Regions from separate parts of the Homo sapiens genome. Here all the other regions are reported to be linked to region 1. Evidence: microRNA targets listed by miRTarBase, many of them from high-throughput screens and not tested one by one. Region 1 holds a microRNA gene; each other region holds the end of a gene's coding sequence.
Evidence for each region. The annotated mature microRNA hsa-miR-519c-3p reads AAAGUGCAUCUUUUUAGAGGAU and lies in region 1 at 1,411-1,432, shown strand. An mRNA with a match to its seed (bases 2 to 7 or 8) in the 3' UTR can be bound and repressed. Matches are read on the target gene's strand: a 7mer-m8 pairs with bases 2 to 8, a 7mer-A1 pairs with bases 2 to 7 and ends in A, and an 8mer does both.

Region 2: miRTarBase lists SALL3 as a target of hsa-miR-519c-3p. Seed matches in the 3' UTR shown: 7mer-m8 at 1,126-1,132.
Region 3: miRTarBase lists FZD6 as a target of hsa-miR-519c-3p. Seed matches in the 3' UTR shown: 8mer at 323-330.
Region 4: the mRNA of RAN is a reported target of hsa-miR-519c-3p. Seed matches in the 3' UTR shown: 7mer-m8 at 1,296-1,302.
Region 5: miRTarBase lists ZNFX1 as a target of hsa-miR-519c-3p. Seed matches in the 3' UTR shown: 7mer-m8 at 1,626-1,632 and 7mer-m8 at 1,281-1,287.

What each region holds. Positions count from the first base shown.
Region 1 is chr19:53,685,112-53,688,422 of GRCh38, forward strand. MIR519C (microRNA 519c) reads left to right here and starts at 1,358; the gene lies at 1,358-1,444. All of the region lies in intron 2 of LOC107985342 (a long non-coding RNA gene), which reads left to right.
Region 2 is chr18:78,997,117-79,000,116 of GRCh38, forward strand. It overlaps SALL3 (spalt like transcription factor 3), which reads left to right. Exons shown (of 3, transcript NM_171999.4): 3 at 1-1,853. The coding sequence ends at 206. Among named protein-coding and RNA genes, the nearest start is that of SALL3, 19 kb to the left of the region's middle.
Region 3 is chr8:103,331,282-103,334,281 of GRCh38, forward strand. FZD6 (frizzled class receptor 6) reads left to right here. Exons shown (of 7, transcript NM_003506.4): 7 at 60-1,585. The coding sequence ends at 228. Among named protein-coding and RNA genes, the nearest start is that of SNORD173, 24 kb to the left of the region's middle.
Region 4 is chr12:130,875,473-130,878,472 of GRCh38, forward strand. It overlaps RAN (RAN, member RAS oncogene family), which reads left to right. Exons shown (of 7, transcript NM_006325.5): 6 at 140-310; 7 at 410-2,206. The coding sequence ends at 454. Among named protein-coding and RNA genes, the nearest start is that of RAN, 4.9 kb to the left of the region's middle. RefSeq lists a silencer at 2,932-3,000.
Region 5 is chr20:49,244,658-49,247,657 of GRCh38, forward strand. It overlaps ZNFX1 (zinc finger NFX1-type containing 1), which reads right to left. Exons shown (of 14, transcript NM_021035.3): 14 at 1,243-3,000. The coding sequence ends at 2,610. Among named protein-coding and RNA genes, the nearest start is that of DDX27, 27 kb to the left of the region's middle.

The sequences.
Region 1 (3,311 bases):
GCTGATCTTGGTAACACATTTGCAGAGCGTGCTTATCATCAGACTTGCATGATGTTGGGGTTCTGTTTTTGTTTAGTTGTTTTGCATCATGGGGTCTCTGTTGCCCAGGCTGGAGTGCGGTGGCGCTTCCAACCTAGATCTCTTGGGCTCAAGTGGTCCCGTGCTTGCTTTTTTTTTTTTTCTTGAAACAGAGTCTCTGTCTCTGGCCCAGGCTTGAGCGCAGTGGCATGTTATCTGCTCACTGCAACCTCTCCTCCCAAGTAGATGGGATTACAGGTGCACGTGCCACGACGCCTGGCTAATATTTGCATTTTTAGCAGAGATGCAGTTTCATCATGATGGCCAGGTTAGTCTCCAACTCCTGACCTCAGGTGATCCGCCTGCCTCAGCCTCCCAAAATGCTGAGATTATAGGTGTAAGCCACCCAGCCTAGCCTCCAATTTTTTTTAATGTGTGCTGCCAATGCAAGCACATATGTGTAGGAATTATTTTTCATGTGAGCACATAGTATATGGAACTTAATTTTTATTGATGTACGGTCTCAAAAATATATATTTTATCATATTCTTATTATACATGTAACATAGTCATATACACACAAAACACTCTTCTATACACAGAGAATACTCTCGTATCACTTTGGGTAATTTTTTGTTTGTGTGTGTATGTTTTTGTTTTTTTTTTAGATAAGGTCTGGGTCTGTCACCCAGGCTAGAGTGCAGTGGTGCCATCTCAGCTTATTGCAACCTCCACCTGCCACTTCAGCCTCTTGAGTAGCTGTCTACAGGCGCACACCACCACGCCCGGCTAACTTTTCTGTTTTCTCTACACATGAGGTATCACCATGTTGCCCAGGCTGGTCTCAAACTCTTGAACTCAAGTGATACTCCTGCCTCAGCCTCCTAAAGGGCTGGGTTTAGAGGTGTGAGCCACCACACCTCACCTGTACCTGTGTGTTTCTGCTCATTTTATTGAGGAGCTTTTACAGCCTGGCCTGTGGTCTCTCCTGGAGGGTGTTTGTGTGTGTGACAATGCATATTCTTCAACATCGTAGATTCCATTTTGGATGCCCCCGTCGGGACTGTGTGTCACTGTACTGGAACTCGAGTGAACACTTAGCTCAAAATCTATTGCTGTTCTCTAGAATCCAGCCCAATTCTCATGGTTAAATATAAGGTATGTATAGTCGGCATTGCTTTTTGAAACAAGGAACTGGAGATGGCCCTGATAGGGGTTTATGTTCTGGATTCCAGAAATCATGCAAACAGGGCCAATAAATGCATCTTTATTTTTGTGTCCATTTTAACCTGGTCAAGGAAAATTCCAACAAAAAATCAATGGTGCTGGAGCAAGAAGATCTCAGCCTGTGACCCTCTAGAGGGAAGCGCTTTCTGTTGTCTGAAAGAAAAGAAAGTGCATCTTTTTAGAGGATTACAGTTTGAGAAAAGCAACGTTAACGTTCATGCTGATCTCGGCAATACATTTGCAGAGCGTGCTTATCATCAGACTTGGATGAGGGTGGGCTTTTGTTCCTGGTTTGTTTGTTTTCTAAGACGGGGTCTCTTTTGCCCAGGCTGGAGAGCAGTGGCACTTCCAACCTAGCTCTCTTGGGCTCAGGTGGTCCTCTTTGCAGGGTCACGATCTCTGCTCACTACAATCTCCCCTTCCCGGGTTGAAGTGGTTCTCCCATCTCAGTCTCCTGTGTTGCTGGGAGTACAGGCCCATGCCACCACGCCCGGCTAATTTTTGTATTTTTAGCAGAGATGGGGTTTCACCGTGTTGACCAGGATGGTCTCCATCTCCTGACCTCGTAATCCACCTGCCTCGGCCTCCCAAAGTGCTGGGTTTACAGTCATGAACCACTGCACCCGGCCTTTGATCTTAATTTTCAATATGAGACCCATCATGAATTTGGGCATCACCTCTGCACAGGGGCCATGGTGATCTCTGTCACTCCATTCATTTCTTATGTGTGGAGCAAACATTTATGTGTAGGAGTAATTCTTTATGTGAGCATACAGTATATGGAACTTTCTTTTTTTTTGAGATAGGGTCTGGAAAATAAATGATGTACAGCCAGGCGCATGAGTATATGAGCAGTTTTTGTGTGTATACGACATGAGCGGTGGCTCATGCCTGCAATATCAACACTTTGGCAGGTTGAGGCGAGTGGATCACTTGAGGTCAGGAGTTTGAGACCAGCCTGACCAACATGGTGAAACCCTGTCTCTACTAAAAATACAAAAAATTAGCCAGCTATGGTGGCGCACGCCTGTATTCCCATCTGCTGGGGAAGTTGAGGGAGGAGAATCACTTGAACGGACAGATGGAGGTTGCAGTGAGCCAAGATCACGCCACCACACTCCAGCCTGGGCGAGAGAATAAGACTGTCTCAAAAAAAAAATATATATATACATATATATTTATATAGAGAGAGAGACTCTGTCTCAAAAAAAAAAATATATATATGGGTGTGTTTGTGTGTATATATATATTATATATGATGTATATTTCATCATATAGCCATATATATAATTATATACACAAAAAATACTCTTCTACACACAGAGATGACTGATATCACTTTGGGGTGGTTTTTGCTTGTGTGTTCTTTTAAATTTTTTTTTGCAACAAGATCTGGCTCAGTCGCCCAGGTTGGAGTGCAGTGTTTCAGTCTTGGCTCACTGCAACCTTCGCCTCCCACCCCAGCCTCCTGAATTAGTGTCTACAGGCATGTACCACCACACCTGGCCTACATTTGTATTTTTTTACAGACAGGGTTTCACCGTGTTGTACACGCTGGTCTTGAGCTCCTGAGCTCAAGTGAATCTCCTGCCTTGGCCTCCTGATGTGCTGGGATTAGAGGTATGAGCCACCACACCCAACTGGTACTTGTGTATTCCTGTTCAAATTTTATTGAGGAGCTTTTACCACCTAGCCTGTGGTCTATCCTGGAGGATGTTTGTGTGTGCGACAATGTATATAGTTCAACATCTTAGATCACATTTTGGATGTTTCCAATGGGACTGTGTGTCTCCGCACTGGAACTCAAATGAACACTTGGCTCAGAATCCATTTGCTGTTCTCTGGAAATCCAGTCCAATTCTCTTGGTTAAGTATAAGGTATGTCTAGTAGGCATTGCTTTTTCTGTTTGAGAACAAAACTCGGGAGGATTGTCCCTTGATGAACAAGGCTAACCTGCTGAGCCTTTGAAGCAAGGAACTGGAGATGGTCCTTTTCAGGCGTTTTATTCTGGATTCCAGAAAACATGCAAACAGGGCCACTAAATGCATCTTTATTTTTCTGTCCA
Region 2 (3,000 bases), not on the chromosome of region 1:
TCCAGAACGGCGGCATCCCCCAGCTCCCCGTGAGTCTTGGGGGCAGCGCCCTCCCCCCTCTGGGCAGCATGGCCAGTGGGATGGACAAAGCACGCACTGGCAGTAGCCCACCCATCGTCAGCTTGGACAAAGCGAGCTCAGAAACAGCAGCCAGCCGCCCATTCACGCGGTTTATCGAGGATAACAAGGAGATTGGTATCAACTAGCCAGTGACTCGCTCATCTGCCCTGCCCAGGCCCACGTTTTGAAGTTGGAGCATCAGGCCTCCGACCTTTCTTGCCTCGGTTCTCATTACACTTTCACCCATAGCAGAAAACACTTTGTGCGGCTGCCGAGAGGTGGTCTTGTAAGCGCTGCATGGCGCTCCCTTCAACAGCAAGCCTGACTGTTCTCGAGAACTCTGCAATCTTTTAAATAAGCTTCCTTCAAAAAAAAAAGTGCTTGGAAAACCGCCTTAGGAACAGAAAGAGCTCAGACCATGTCCACTTCCTTTCTCCTGAAACCTAATAATCTCTCCGAGGGAGAAAGGGGTTCTCTGCGGTATTCCAGTGAAACTCATTTGATGGTTTCTTTTGAATTAGTTAGACACTTGAACGGTGTTTTTTAGAACTCTTCATGTTAAAGACGTGGTTTAGTACTCCCAATGCTGTGTATCATGACACTATCTTCGTCTGTAGTATTTATGATGTTAAGATAATGCGGGTAACAGACAATATAATAGCCCCGACCTTAAACGAAGCTTTTGTACTGCAGAATACATCTGGCTGTGTGATTTTTTTTTTTAAGCAAGATTTGTTTTACTATAAATAAGTGGATTATTTCAATGCAGGCAAAATTGTGAAGTTCTGTTGGGAAAGATAGCATGCTTTTCGTGTGCAAGTACCTGTCAGTAATAAGCCTTTTTTTTTTTTTTTTTTAATTTAAATGTTTGTAGCTGCTATGTGGACAGTTGTTTTCTAGTGTGGTCTGTAGCCCAATAACTGGGGAACGAGTTACAGACAAACATCACCGTAAATGACTCACAACATTATAAACAGTTGTGAGAAAATATTTCACATTATCAAAGCTGTACAATAAAAAGGTAATGTTTGTATAATGTGGTTGCAAACTCTTAATTTATACTATTGCACTTTTAGTATTTTGTATTAGGGAGGTTTGTCTATAATTTGAAAATTTAAAAAAATGTAAAGTATTTTATAAATAGTACTTCAGTTTAAGGAAAATGGGAAAACTGTTACAGTTCCTTGTTTTGTCTTATGGTCAAACAATATTAGAAATCTCTGCCACTTGAAAAGCCACCAAGACTTGTCAGCTTTTCAGTAAAGTAGGGCCTGCCGTTTCTTAAATTAAAATGATTTATTTAACTTTTCCACAAAGCCCACTTTAAAACTGTGACCGCCCCCTAACGAAACCTTGGTGAATTCATCCTAGGACTATGACGTCAGTACAAGCCAGGAAGGAACTAGGATAACCTTCTGCAGGTCTGATTTTCATGTAAGCGGGTCTGTCTCTCTCTCTCACCCACAGACAAGATTGTGGCTGCCTGGTGGCACTGGTCACATGTACAGTAAACCCAAGAGAAATGGCAAGTATCAGGCAGTACAATCAGTCATGACTTTGAAATTTTCCGAGTTCCTGATTTATTTATTATCTTCTCAGATGAAAGCAAAGCACAGTGTCCTCTGATTTTTCAGAACACAGCCTGACGCTGATGGCTGAGCTGCATCCAGCCAGGAGGGCCCCGGAGGCTGGGGCGGCCGAGGCAGCACAAACACGGCGTCGTGAACTACCTCATTTTCGTGCGTTGCAAGTGTGCTGGCGTCTGACACTATGAACTTCCAACAACAAAATTGTTCAAGAGATGCTCTGGTAGCTGGGTAACTGCAAGGAGTTGCATGCCCCTGAAGAAAGAATCAGACAGTGAAGTCTTCTCGGTCGAGACAGAAAAATAGAACAATCTTCTCCTAACAACCACAGCAGCATCAACAATCATTGTAAGAGGATGGGCTGTTTGTGCCAGCGTGTCACTAAACAAAAAGTATCAAAGACTCATTAGCTGTTTATTTCTATTGGAAATCAACACTGAACTCTACAGCTCTGTTTTCCACGGTGATGAGATGTAACTTCGCCCCACCATGCCACCTCTTCTCACGGGATGAGGGCTCGGGGTGTCTCAAGCATTAGGCAGAGAAAACTGAGGTGGCTTAAGGTCACTGTGTTTCAGCAGTTGAATGTTTTCATTATTTATCTGTGTCCTTTTTGGTGTGTGTGTGTGTGTGGTTTTTTTGTTTGTTTGTTTTTGGTTAGTATTTGGTACCATATAGTGTTCTCTCTTCTCCCAAAAGGATGTGTATATAACTAAAGAGAAATGTAAAGTGTTGTAAATAAGATGGCTCATGAAGGTACAGTGAGACTGACCCTCCTGTGTGCAGGGCTAGGCCATCCCTCTGCATGGTGAAGAGAGACACTATTTTTATACTGTAATGCCATGCGGGGCTGGGACCTCTCTGAGCAGCTGGGGATTGTTACCTAGACCCAATATTTTTTATTATTAAATCTTGTGGCTTGACACATCTGCTGACTGAAATGGATGTCTTAGTCTAGGTTACTATTTTTGTCATATGGAATTGAATAAAATGCAGGATGTAATGTTATTTCTGAGTTGCATTCCTTGATTTTTCTAATGGAGAAAGTGGAATTTGAGGAGGTCATTTGTGGTGGGTGTGTATCCGTGGTATTTCCACCAGGAACGTCAACACAGCTTGGCAGCTTAGATTTAAGCAGTGTCTCAGTGCATCTTGATTGGTCTTGAAATTTTTGTTTTTTGCTTTTTTCCAAAATAAAAATTCAGCCTCCTAGTTGTGGATTCTTTTTACATCTGTGATGGAAGAAGATGTGGTAGAAAATTCCTACATATCAGAGACTCCGCAGTGCCCAAAAGTGACCACTCGGAATTGCCTTCCCGTTGTCAGCATGAAGTGAAAATACCGGCTTTTCAGG
Region 3 (3,000 bases), not on the chromosome of region 1:
AATGGCATCATATTTGTGTTTGTGGATGTGTGTGTGTCAACTTTTTTTCTTTTATCTAGGATTAGTCCAAAGAGTGATATTACTGACACTGGCCTGGCACAGAGCAACAATTTGCAGGTCCCCAGTTCTTCAGAACCAAGCAGCCTCAAAGGTTCCACATCTCTGCTTGTTCACCCGGTTTCAGGAGTGAGAAAAGAGCAGGGAGGTGGTTGTCATTCAGATACTTGAAGAACATTTTCTCTCGTTACTCAGAAGCAAATTTGTGTTACACTGGAAGTGACCTATGCACTGTTTTGTAAGAATCACTGTTACATTCTTCTTTTGCACTTAAAGTTGCATTGCCTACTGTTATACTGGAAAAAATAGAGTTCAAGAATAATATGACTCATTTCACACAAAGGTTAATGACAACAATATACCTGAAAACAGAAAATGTGCAGGTTAATAATATTTTTTTAATAGTGTGGGAGGACAGAGTTAGAGGAATCTTCCTTTTCTATTTATGAAGATTCTACTCTTGGTAAGAGTATTTTAAGATGTACTATGCTATTTTACTTTTTTGATATAAAATCAAGATATTTCTTTGCTGAAGTATTTAAATCTTATCCTTGTATCTTTTTATACATATTTGAAAATAAGCTTATATGTATTTGAACTTTTTTGAAATCCTATTCAAGTATTTTTATCATGCTATTGTGATATTTTAGCACTTTGGTAGCTTTTACACTGAATTTCTAAGAAAATTGTAAAATAGTCTTCTTTTATACTGTAAAAAAAGATATACCAAAAAGTCTTATAATAGGAATTTAACTTTAAAAACCCACTTATTGATACCTTACCATCTAAAATGTGTGATTTTTATAGTCTCGTTTTAGGAATTTCACAGATCTAAATTATGTAACTGAAATAAGGTGCTTACTCAAAGAGTGTCCACTATTGATTGTATTATGCTGCTCACTGATCCTTCTGCATATTTAAAATAAAATGTCCTAAAGGGTTAGTAGACAAAATGTTAGTCTTTTGTATATTAGGCCAAGTGCAATTGACTTCCCTTTTTTAATGTTTCATGACCACCCATTGATTGTATTATAACCACTTACAGTTGCTTATATTTTTTGTTTTAACTTTTGTTTTTTAACATTTAGAATATTACATTTTGTATTATACAGTACCTTTCTCAGACATTTTGTAGAATTCATTTCGGCAGCTCACTAGGATTTTGCTGAACATTAAAAAGTGTGATAGCGATATTAGTGCCAATCAAATGGAAAAAAGGTAGTTTTAATAAACAAGACACAACGTTTTTATACAACATACTTTAAAATATTAAGGAGTTTTCTTAATTTTGTTTCCTATTAAGTATTATTCTTTGGGCAAGATTTTCTGATGCTTTTGATTTTCTCTCAATTTAGCATTTGCTTTTGGTTTTTTTCTCTATTTAGCATTCTGTTAAGGCACAAAAACTATGTACTGTATGGGAAATGTTGTAAATATTACCTTTTCCACATTTTAAACAGACAACTTTGAATACAAAAACTTTGTTTTGTGTGATCTTTTCATTAATAAAATTATCTTTGTATAAGAATTATGGAGTATTCTGTGGTTAGGTATAGTAGTTCTGGCCAAGGAAGTAGTATAATTTTTTAGATTAGTGACTCCATGGCTGGTAAGTCAGAGGCTTCTTTTTAACCTTGAAGGAGAATGCAGTCAAGATTCTTGCTTTTTGTCACTATTTCTTTCCAAAAATGTAAATTATAAAGCTATATTAACTGTAACTTTTTAAAGCCAGTGGGAAAGATCTGGAGTGTGAGGGGTGAAGCAAAAGGAACCCAGGACCCAGTTTTCACTCCTAACAGTGTATTAGGTGATACAGACAAACCTCCCAAAACAGAAGGCTAGAATATGTGGATGAAATAAAACAATAGGCAGATTTCTGTGATGGGGGAAAAAAAGAAATAAAATAATATTAACCCCAAACATTAAAAAACTAATAAGATAGTGAGGAATTGCCAGGTTAAGATCTGGGAGAAGAGAGAAATTCTCACTACAAAGCCCAACATTTGGAGCTGTTTTGCCCAGGAGCACTTGATGACTTGGAAAGGGCAGCTGAGAAGTGGAACAGTGCTATTGACAGCCTCAAAGGGCTGGAAGACAAGGGGTCTGCAACCACCCTACATTTAGAATTGTGACCTCAGAGGGTTGGATCTTAAAAGTACATGTGAGTTGTACATAAAGCAGCCCTGCTTCAAGTTGTCTGGGTAGATAGAAAAAGTTCAAACCCTGAAATTAGATTAAGGTAGCTCAAGCACCAGGTAAATGAAAATCTTCTCTGGAGGAAGAAAATGTTATTTTATATACTCTAAAAGTACCACAGTGCTCATCATACAATCAAACAATCAGGTATGCAAAAAAGACCATTTTTTGTTCATTAAAACATGAACAAGAATTGGCACAAGCAAGAGAAAAAGATCCCCAGGTACTGCTGATGTATTACTAGATACACATCATGTAACTTAAAAGTACAAGCAAGGAAAACAATAAGATACTACACACCTATAAGAATGGACAGCACATAGTGACTTCCTTCCAAAGAATCCAAAGTACAGGTGGTACAGGGAGAGTAGCATTTACAGTGGAGAAACCTGACAAACTCAGCGAGAGGTACCTCACTACTCAGAAGGCGATCAAAGTCAAAAGAGAGGTAAGTCATGTTGAGAGTGTTACCTTTCATATGATGTGATGAAAATTGCAGTTTACCTCTGATATTCCCAAAACCTATAACCTCACTCTAGTTGTGAAATATGAGATGAATCTCAGCAGATGGACATTTTACAAGATAGCTGACCAGTCCTCCTCAAAAGGAGTCAAAATCCTCAAGAACAAGGGAAGTTTGAGAAACTATCACAGCCAAGAGGAGCTGAAGGAGACATGACAACTAAATGTAATGTGGTATCTTGGAAAAGAAAAAAGCACATTAGATAAAAACTAAGGAAATTTGAA
Region 4 (3,000 bases), not on the chromosome of region 1:
CCCGAAAGTGCTGGGATTACAGGCATGAGCCACCATGCCTTGCCAAGAATCTTAACATTTTCTTATCTTGCAATGTCCTAGAAAAATCGTCATCTTAATAATGAATTTTAAAAAGTAATTTTACCTTTCTTTTAAACAGTACTACGACATTTCTGCCAAAAGTAACTACAACTTTGAAAAGCCCTTCCTCTGGCTTGCTAGGAAGCTCATTGGAGACCCTAACTTGGAATTTGTTGCCATGCCTGCTCTCGCCCCACCAGAAGTTGTCATGGACCCAGCTTTGGCAGCACAGTATGAGCACGACTTAGAGGTATTGTGGCCACTTTGCTGTTCAGATTGTTCGGTTTGGCTTGTTTATTCCTGGCAGTTTTGATCTGGAGTGTTAACGTTTTTCCATCTCTTCGTCTAGGTTGCTCAGACAACTGCTCTCCCGGATGAGGATGATGACCTGTGAGAATGAAGCTGGAGCCCAGCGTCAGAAGTCTAGTTTTATAGGCAGCTGTCCTGTGATGTCAGCGGTGCAGCGTGTGTGCCACCTCATTATTATCTAGCTAAGCGGAACATGTGCTTCATCTGTGGGATGCTGAAGGAGATGAGTGGGCTTCGGAGTGAATGTGGCAGTTTAAAAAATAACTTCATTGTTTGGACCTGCATATTTAGCTGTTTTGGAACGCAGTTGATTCCTTGAGTTTCATATATAAGACTGCTGCAGTCACATCACAATATTCAGTGGTGAAATCTTGTTTGTTACTGTCATTCCCATTCCTTTTCGTTTAGAATCAGAATAAAGTTGTATTTCAAATATCTAAGCAAGTGAACTCATCCCTTGTTTATAAATAGCATTTGGAAACCACTAAAGTAGGGAAGTTTTATGCCATGTTAATATTTGAATTGCCTTGCTTTTATCACTTAATTTGAAATCTATTGGGTTAATTTCTCCCTATGTTTATTTTTGTACATTTGAGCCATGTCACACAAACTGATGATGACAGGTCAGCAGTATTCTATTTGGTTAGAAGGGTTACATGGTGTAAATATTAGTGCAGTTAAGCTAAAGCAGTGTTTGCTCCACCTTCATATTGGCTAGGTAGGGTCACCTAGGGAAGCACTTGCTCAAAATCTGTGACCTGTCAGAATAAAAATGTGGTTTGTACATATCAAATAGATATTTTAAGGGTAATATTTTCTTTTATGGCAAAAGTAATCATGTTTTAATGTAGAACCTCAAACAGGATGGAACATCAGTGGATGGCAGGAGGTTGGGAATTCTTGCTGTTAAAAATAATTACAAATTTTGCACTTTTTTGTTTGAATGTTAGATGCTTAGTGTGAAGTTGATACGCAAGGAAAATGGTCCATGTTTACCCACAGTTTTCAGGTACTCCTAGACTTTAAAGATGTCTTGAACATTTAAGTTCTTCAGCAGTTCACACTACACCGTTTTTTTGTTTTTTTTTCCCCCCCGGGAGGGTTTTTTTGTAGGGCAGCACAGCAGAGCAGGACATGGATGAAATACTAGGAATATGCACAGTGGGGCAGTGTGGGGGCTTCTCAGTAATGGAGAACAGTTGGTGAAACTTTTTTTTTTTTTTAACTAAGCATTTAATTTATCTTGCATATTTTCCACATTTAAAAATGAATTAGGTCTATTAGGATAATTAGGAGTTTGATCCCATCAACACTATTCTTGTAGCAGTTAGGAATCTTGAGCTATTTTTTTCTCATACGATTACTATAGTCCAGTTTACCAAAGTTTTCTTTAGATGTCTGATAATCTTGAGATGATTGCTTACCTTAAAAGGTATAGAAAGGATCACTTAAATATATGGAAAAATGAAATAAGGGTGAAGCTGAATAAAGTTCTACTTACTGTATTAACTGGCAACAGTTGAGTTTCTTAAGATCTGAATTGCTGTGTATGTTACGCTGTATTCAGAACCAGTTTCTAACCAGCCTGTGAGATGGGAAGTTTTTTCCCCATAATTGGGATGAAACCTTTCATTCAGGTATTTTGAATTGAAGGTGTATGTGTTGTTTGTAACCTTGTGGAGATTGCAAGTGGTGTTGACATTCTGGATCTTCTATGTAACAGTTGAAATTTGGAAGTGACGTCACTTACCTGTCTAACGTGGTGTGGGAGAGAATTTACAAGTCCTTTATTGAAAGAATAATTGTTGCAAAATATATTGCTTCTACTTTGCCTGGATTTTTTGAATCATCTCTAGTATTTGCTTTAGGAAATGCTGAAGAGTTAGCAGAGATTATTATCTTTTGGGGGGGCGGCGGGGAAGGGGTCAGTTCTCTCCAGATTGTACAAATGGGAAAAGTCTGCTCTCCATTTTTTGAAATCTCGTGTCTAATGGGGGAAGCCTTGAAAGCTTTATATGAAGTTACTGCAAACCAGTAATAGCTTATTAGAGCAAAGTCATTAAGAAAAAGCATAGTTAGTGCATAGGTCTTGTGTGGATATAATGTGAAACTGGTAAATTAGTAGTTTCAATTTGTGTGAGAGCCAGTTTTTTTAAAAAACCACATAGAATGGGATTTTTTAAAAAATTGTATCAATCATAAAATGTCTAGAAAAGATGAGACTCCAAAATAGCCTCCAAAGAGGACTGGTTTCCTGGCTAACTGTTCACCTGAAGGAACTCAAGTACAGAGAATTTCTGGTTTCTTTTGCAAAAACAGATCAGAAACACAAAAAATTACCTGCTGAGCAAATGGGATGAGGGTTGGATTCAGCTTTTCTTGCCAGCAAACTGACGGACATCGTGTATGATGTTTTCTGCCACTCGGGCTGTACAGGGCTATCCTGCCCAGCAAGATTACGTGAGACTAAGCTTTCCCTGTATGAGGCAGACCCTGTACTAGGACAGCACCTATCCTAACTCCTTGCAGCACCTTTTACCCTTGAAGCCGAGGGCATGGTGGGGAGAAACGGCACCTAACCATGGAAACCTTATCTTTAGTTAAGGGGTCAGAGTCCTATTCAAAAAACAT
Region 5 (3,000 bases), not on the chromosome of region 1:
ATAAATTAGTTACTTGCTGCAAAAACCAGAGTCTCTTGTCCTCCAGGCTGGAGTGCAATGACACGATCTTGGCTCATTGCAACCTCCACCTCCCGGGTTCAAGCGAATCTCCTGCCTCAGCCTCCCAAATACCGGTGATTACAGGTGCCCGCTACCATGCCTGGCTAATTTTTGTATTTTTAGGAGAGACAGGGTTTCACCATGTTGGCCAGGCTGGTCTTGAACTCCTGACCTCAGGTGATCCACCACCTCAGCCTCCCAAAGTGCTGGGATTACAGGCTTGAACCACTGTACCTGGCCAAAAACCAGTTTTGATCCTGTAAGAACGTCGGTTCTCATCCTTTTCTGACTCAGAATGAGATGAAAGCTGTGGGGCCCCACCTGGAAAACTGTATAGTTTGTTATAATTTCAGGGAGTACTTACCACCCTACCCCCAGCTTAAAAATTATAAGTTATCCAGTAGCACATACCCTAGATACTAAAGAGTGTGTTCAAAGCTATTCATTCAGGCTGCACCTAAGTCACCAACAGAGGGTCCAATTCAGAAAATGATGGCACAACTGTGTGATGGAGTACAGTTCAGACTACTGTCTTACTGGATTTTACAGAAAGTAGGTTATTAGGCTAAAAAAGCCAAGTGCAGAACTGTGTACTTTTTCTTTTCCTTTTCCTTTTTTTGAAGCAGGGTCTCACTCTTGCCCAGGCTGGAGTGCAGTGGCTTCACTGCTCACTGCAACCTCGACCTCCCCAGGCTCAGGTGATCCTCCTACCTCAGCCTTTGGAGTAGCTAGGACTACAAGTGCAAGCAACAACACCTGGCTTATTTTTGTATTTTTTTTTTTGTGGAGATGGTTTCGCCCTGTTGCCCAGGCTGGTCTTGAACTCCTGGGCTCAGGCCATCTGCCCAATGTGGCCTCCCAAAGTGCTGGGATTACAGATGTGAGCCACCATGCCTGGCCTAAGGGATGTGTATTGCATGTGCATAAGTTCTCTCTGGGAGGACTCAGGAAGTTAACAGGGTTTGCCTCTGGAGAAAGAAACTTCAGGTATACCCTTTTGTACAGGCTGAAAAAATGTTCTTTTTACCGTGGGTAAAAATGATTCATTCACCAGCTAAATAAAAATCCTGTATCACAAAAACAAAATCACAGCCTCACTGTAGACAGTGCCTTCCCTGTGCCCGTCTTCACTGTCTTTGGCTGAGTTGCTTCTGAAAATTGAGGATACACGTGGACCACTGATTTTCTCAATCATTGTTTTTAATTGGCTTTATAAGCTAAAGTGCATAGTAAAGACAAAAAAAGGAAATGCATACATAGGAAAGGGACACTTAGAAAGGACCTGAGATACCTAAATGTCTGTTCTAAGGAACACTGGAAGGAGGGAATGCAGATGCAGGCAGCAGGCCTGGGTCTGGCTTCTGGCCTGGGTTTGGAGCCTGCAGAAGCTGCTGGCATGCTAGCTCTACCCAGGGAACAGCTCCAAGAGGGAGTGTTGGGATGAAGGATCACACTTGGGATAGGTGCTGCTGGTACCAAATGTGATTTTAGCTCCATTCAGGGCCCAGGGGTAACCAGCAGTGCCACCAAACCTGTCAGCAGGTAAAGAAACTTCTACCATCCCAAAGTGCAGGTTACAGGAAAGGGGTCACTCCTTAATGACGACCTGGGCCTGCTGCATAAGGCCCATCTTATGCAGCATGTGGGCTGTCCCATCTTCCCCACTCTCAGTGACTATGTAACTGTGTCAGGGTGAGTTGGTGCAGTCTTTTGTCTTATCACGTGCCTCCATCTCCTGGAGGCAGGGTGCCCAAGGAGGGCAGGGAGGGGTTCTTGTGCTCCTTTAAGGGATAAGCAGTTCATAAACAACTATGGGCCTCTGTTTATTATGAGAGTTAGTCTGCAAATTAGGGCCTGGCAATTAGAATCGGTCTGCATCAATGAGCTCATACTCTGTTCCTGGGGAACAATGTAGAATAAACATCTGACCAAGTAAAGACCCAGAGATACCACTAGGTGGCCCTAGGTGGAAGCCCCAAACATGTTCCAGGGAGTCTGTCCACTAATTTGCAGGAGAGAAGGGGTGAGATTTGTTAACTTTGCTCTCAGTTCTGGAGATAAAGTGCTTACTCTAGCGCAGGGGTAAATCTAGAAACAAATGTGGGTGAGCCCTAAAAGTGGATCCTTAAGTAGGTGCTAAGACTAAAAAGAATGATTTTTTTTTTTTTGAGACAGAGTCTTGCTCCTGTCGCCCAGACTGGAGTGCAATGGCATGATCTCAGCTCACTGCAACCTCCGCCTCCTGGGTTTAAGCGATTCTTCTGCCTCAGCCTCCCAAGTAGCTGGGATTACAGGCGCCCGCCATAACGCCCAGCTAATTTTTGTATTTTTAGTAGAGACGGGGTTTCGCCATGTTGGTCAGGCTGGTCTCGAACTCCTGACCTCGTGATCCGCCTGCCTCGGCCTCCCAAAGTGCTGGGATTACAGGCGTAAGCCACTGCGCCCAGCCTAAAAAGGATGATAATAAAAAACAAACTTCAGTTCCTTCATTAGGGAGCTGGCCCCAGTCATTCAGTGGCGAGGGCAAAAGGCAGTGGTGTACCATCTTCCTACATCATCCCCTGGATCTCCTCAAAGTTCATCAGGTTGTTGGCCGTGTCAGACCAGGCAGCATGCTGGGCTCCATCCATTTCAGAAGCAAGCTGGTTGCTTCTTTCCAGAGTATGATTTGTGCCACCAATCACTTCCTTACAGTCAGGACACGTGCCCCTCTCCATGGCTCCCCCACAATCGCCAATCACATAGATATGGCCATTGCGGCACTTGAACCAGTGACCACGAGGATAACCTATGGCACTGACAATCTGCACTCGCTCTTCCTCTGAGATGCCCAGGCCAGAGCAGGGAAGGGTGGCTTTCAGAGCTTCCATCTTTTCCTGCACAAGTTGTTCATCCTCTTGGGTGAACTTACATGTTTTCTCAAGGATATTCTGGACACTA